Regions from separate parts of the Homo sapiens genome. Here region 1 is linked to region 2. Evidence: fine-mapped expression QTL. A gene starts in region 2. The other region holds a variant in brackets. All regions are shown on one strand. Distances are between the middles of the regions.

Region 1 (2,500 bases), 35 kb before region 2:
TGAGCTGATTTTACAGTTTTATGGCATCAGAGCAGACATGAAGAGGGAAAGCAAACATGCCAGGATGTCTATGAAAGTATTTCTTGCTGTCGGAGAACTGTTGGCCTGGCCTAATGTTGCTGAATTGCTGGAAACCTGCCCATTTAAAACATAGGAAACCAGAAAAACGTCTCAAATTCTTACAATTCTGAGACGTCCCCATTCCTGTTGAAGTCATAGAGTTGCTTTATTATGTTTTTATTTTTAAAAAATTTTATTTACTCGCCACAGATTTGAATTGGCTTGGAAGGATTTAGATTACTGGAATCGGAAGCCTCTGTCTGAATATTACCCAACACCCAAGAGTGTGGTCATTAGAACCCCATCCCTCTGGCTGCTAAAAAAGAAGCAAGACAGCTCCTTTCCCCTGCCATGAAATGGAAATACTAATTCAAGTTTTCCACCAGGCTGGATATGCTCATAGGAAAATAATCCTTTTTGCTCTTATGAGATAGAGGCGTTGAAAATAGAACCTGTAAAGTTGAGAAATGCAGTCGTGTTTTCAGTTGTCTACATTGAGCATTTATTACCTTTATAATAAAAAATATGGTTTAGGCTGCGCATGGTGGCTCACGCCTGTAATCCCAGCACTTTGGGAGGCCAAGGAGGGAGGACTGCTTGAGGCCAGGAGTTTGAGACTAGCCTGGGCAACACAGAGAGACCGTGTCTCTATAAAAAGTATATAGTTTAACTTGTTTCTGTGGACAGCTTTTTAAAGAAGACCATCATGTGGGTATTTATCATTCAGTATGTAGACTGTGGCAGATGTTTAATCCCACCCTGCCCCTCGCTCCTGCTATCAGGAGATAGTTCTGGGACAAGTGGTTTTAGCCTCTCGTAATCTCCATTACACCGCACGAAACCACCCTAAGAGGCTTACACTGCAGGCTTCTCTACATGCAGCTCCAAGCAGAGGCCCCAGCCCCAGGCAAAACCTTCTGGGCTTCCCTATGATCCGCCAGGCAAAACTGAAATGACATTTTAACACTACCACCTATAAAATAAAAGCAGGAAGGTAAATCTGACTGAAATCAAATCTAGTAATTATTTTAAAGGTAATATTCCAAAGCCAAAACAAAACTGTGGGGAATGGGAGAGGTCTTTGTTTCTTTCTGATAGATGATTTAAAATGATCTGCTATTAGGGACACTTCATCCCTTAGATGACCTATGGGGTCCCCTGCGTTACTAACAAACAGCAGCAAGCGATCAGTATCTAACTCCGTGTCACTCTCTGAGAGCACTGTGGCATCAAGAAAGGTGTCCCAGGAGACCTGGCCTAGGCGCCCTCTCTGTCGCCAAGTTAATTGCATGGCCTTGGGCAAGTCACTCCACCCCGAAAGCCTCAGTGTGTCCATCTGCAGAATGGGGCTGCCACCTCCTCTCACCTG[A/G]TGTTATGGAGATGAACGGAGTACGTGCAAAAGCTCGAGGGGCTGCCTGGATGGCCCGACGCACTGCCTTGGGCCAGTACACACAGTGTGGGGCCTACCTGGACATGGTGCTGGGGAGCCTTCGGGTCTTCAGGCGGGGAGTGGGGGCCGGGGAGAGACGGGTAGCACTGGGTGGGGTCCACTTTCCTGGGAACCTGCTTGGTAACTGCGTTTCCTCTGTGTTTCTTCTGTAGGAAGGCCAACAGCTCAGGAGAAGCCATGTCACTGGGGAGCCACAGCCCGCAGAGTGACTCCCTGACACAGCTTGTCCAGCAGCCGGATATGATGTATTTTATTCTCTTCCTGTGGCTCCTGGTGTACTGCTTGCTGCTCTTCCCACAACTGGATGTTAGCAGGCTCTGATACGTGTGTCTGGATAATAAAAAAGACAGGACCCTGACCAGGGGCGGGGTTACTTCATTTTATTTTGGGTTCTGGGTGGGGCACTTCTACAGACAGTTGAGGACCTCCGAGGAAACTTAGACCCCCTTTCTCGCTATTGTGGTTTTTTTTTTTTTTTCAGGTTTCCTTTTTTTTCTGGACAACCTGAGCATGCTTTTTTCTTTGGCTGTGTACTCAAAACTCAGGCATGCAGCTGGATCCGTAGGTGGGGTTTTGTCCTTGTGTGCCTTGCTGGGTTGGATAGGGAGCATTGTTAGTGATCATTAGCCCGCCTGGATCTTAGCACACCCCACATTGCAGGTTCACACGCTGGATGAACTTGAGTTTCTTACCTCTCAGATGAAGGGCTGCTTAATGAGAAAGAGGGTGGGCACCCCAGGCCAAGCCCCAGCTGGGGAGAGAGCTGCCACGTTTTCCTCCAAGCGTGGGTGTTTGAGAGAAGGTGCTGGGGTCCATGCACCTGTCGCAGTCCGGTAACTGGTTGCATTCACTAGGGGAAATCCGAGCAGCCAGCTCTGTGTAAGCACATCCAGGAATGGCAGAATCCAGGGAGGAAGGTGAAAGCTGTGTTGAGAGCCACTGTGTGCTCTTTTTCACCCTGTTTTTTTTGTTGTTTTTTTGTTTTGTTTT
Region 2 (2,500 bases):
TACAAAAATTAGCTGGGTGTGGTGGCGTGCCCCTGTAATCCCAGCTACTCGGGAGGCTGAGGCAGGAGAATCACTTGAACCTGGGAGGCGGAGATTGCAGTAAGCCCAGGTCGCACCACTGCACTCCAGCCTGGAGACAGAGTGAGACTCCGTCTCAAAAGAAAAAAAAAAAAAAAACAGGAAGCAGTTTCAGCACCTACCTCACAATGTGCACACAGTTAAAGCACCTACCTCACAGGGTGCACACAGTTAAAGCACCTACCTCACAGGGTGCACCTAAGGATCACAGGCATGCAAGCCCTAGATCAGCCTGCCCAATGGCAATATAATGCAGGCCACAGGTGACATTTAAAATTCTGTAGAACCCACACTAAAAAATAAACAAATAAAACTTTTATCCCAATATATGGAAAAAGTTTATCACTTCAACATGTAACAATTTTTTGAACATTATTTGGTAAAGAATGCATATATCTCGATTCCGACTAGCCATACTTTAAGTGCTCAGGAGCCATGTGGGGCTGGTGGCCCCAAACTGAACAGCACAGCCCAGGCAGCAGGGGCGCATAGTAGGTTCTGCTCACGCCCATGGTCTGAAAGAAACACGGTTGCAGTTGCTGTGAGCACACCTCACCTGGAGCAAACCGGCCTATCAGGGGGTCCACTGAAGAGATGTCTACATTTGGGGATAAATTAAGAAGATGTTCTTTAAGCCAGCCACTTATTTAATTCCCACCGATATTTTAATTCCTAGCTTCAAGCTGTGGTGCGCGGTTCCGACCTATGCAAATGAACAGCTTACAAACAGAGGGCCACCATCTATTTCTCATTATCTGGGGATCCCGGTTGGGGTGGGGGGCGGAAGTGGGTGTTTGTTATTTCCCCAAATGCGGAGGCCCCTGCACCACTAACGCGAGGAAACGCAGGCGAGTGGGAAGGTACTTTAAAAAGGGGAGGGAGGTGCTCAGAGGGAAGCTAAGCTCTCCGGGAAACAATTACGGCCACGTTACGGTCTGTGGGTGCCAGAAGGAGCAACAATGGAGGCAGTCGAATTCCGAGAGCTCAGAGAGTCTGCCAAACTTAGCCGGCCTCGGCGCGCGGGTTCCCGGGGGCCCCAAAAACTCCGGGCAACTGCGGCCCAACGCCAAGGTCCAGTCCAGGCGCTGGGCCGCAAACGCCTCTCCGGCCTCCGCGCGCGCGCCCGCTGTCTCCCTGCTCCTGAGTGGCTGGGGGGCCGGGATTAACCTTTCACCGCCAGGCCCTGTCCAATCACAGGCTCGCTCTCATGCCGCCACGGGGCGAGCGGAGCGTGGGGGCGCGGAGGGGCGGTGCGGGAGCCAGTGGGATTCTCCAAGCGGCTGTGCGCCGTTGCCGCGGGCCGTGCGCTGGCTGCCGGCCAGCCGGGCGCTGCGCAGTCTCCGCAGGCGCCGGCGGGAGGGGTCGAGGCGGAGGCGCGGCGCAGGCTGCTGCAGGCCCAGGTGAATGGAGTAACCTGACAGCGGGGACGAGGCGACGGCGAGCGCGAGGAAATGGCGGCGGGGGCGGCGGCGCCGGGCGGCTCCGGGAGGCCTGGGCTGTGACGCGCGCGCCGGAGCGGGGTCCGATGGTTCTCGAAGGCCCGCGGCGCCCCGTGCTGCAGGTGAGGCGGGCTCCCGCGGAGCAGCTTTGTGTCCGGGGCGGGGAGCGGGTCGCCTGGCCGCGCTCCCGCCTCCGCGCGGAGGCCCGCGTGCCGGCCATGGCCCCGAGCCGCGCGTCCGGGCCTGGCGGGCGCTGACGAAGGGCGCGGCCTCGCCTGCCTCGTCGTCCCGCACAGCGCGGCCTGTGGACCCGGCGTCTGCCCGCCTCGGCTCTGCTCCTGGGCCCGGACCCCGGCGCCTCCCCGCGAGGCAGCCCTGGGAGACTTTCCGGGCCGCCGTGGCGTGGTGGGGGATGCCGGCGCCTGTCCACTCCCCGGCCTGGCGAGGCCTGGGGCTCTTGACAGGTCCCGTCACGCGCGCTAAGGTGGCGCGGGAGCAGCGGAGGTGGAGACGCGCGCCTGACCTGCCGGAGCACCCTGGGGCCCTCCTCTGATGGGGCCGCTGTGCCGCGCCCGGAGGGGACGAAGCTGGGCTCTCGGTCCCTCCCGGGAGGGTCCTGTGTGATTACTGTCAGGGGACCAGATTGGGGCCCTGGGGGGCGGGCAGGGGCCGAGGCCATTCTTTTGCCTCTCCCCTCAGATGTTTTTGTGCCAAAATGCCTAGACCCTGCGGAGGACCCTTTCTTCAGGGTTTTTGATTTTGGGGAAATCAGTGTATGTTTTAAGTTAGCACATCAGATTTCTGTAGATTGTCCAGAAAAGCTGAGTTGCCCTGATGGCTCTGCCTGGAGGTCAGAGCCAGCAAACCACTGAGTGTGTCCTTAGGAACCTGAAGATCCGCGGAAACGTGGAGATGAGTTGGAGGGTCCTATTTGTGTAGTGTTAACTCCGTGCTTTTGTGGAGAGAGTTGTGGTTAAAGGGAC

Direction of the effects. Positions count from the first base shown, and alleles are read on the strand shown. Sizes are in standard deviations (SD) of each study's normalised expression.
For the expression in fibroblasts of the gene that starts at base 1,340 in region 2, A is the low allele of the variant in region 1 and G is the other (moderate effect, 0.69 SD a copy in GTEx).

The links.
Region 1: its variant is fine-mapped to the expression of DICER1 in fibroblasts (GTEx, PIP above 0.99). The same link has a PIP of 0.9 or more in breast.

What each region holds. Positions count from the first base shown.
Region 1 is chr14:95,190,895-95,193,394 of GRCh38, reverse strand. CLMN (calmin) reads left to right here. Exons shown (of 13, transcript NM_024734.4): 13 at 1,663-2,500. The coding sequence ends at 1,831. Among named protein-coding and RNA genes, the nearest start is that of DICER1-AS1, 34 kb to the right of the region's middle. The variant A/G (reference allele first, on the strand shown) is at 1,430.
Region 2 is chr14:95,156,369-95,158,868 of GRCh38, reverse strand. DICER1 (dicer 1, ribonuclease III) reads left to right here and starts at 1,340. Exons shown (of 27, transcript NM_177438.3): 1 at 1,340-1,639. It overlaps DICER1-AS1 (DICER1 antisense RNA 1), which reads right to left and starts at 1,181. Exons shown (of 4, transcript NR_015415.1): 1 at 1,011-1,181; 2 at 635-676. RefSeq lists enhancers at 870-939, 980-1,079 and silencers at 1,170-1,629, 1,690-2,049.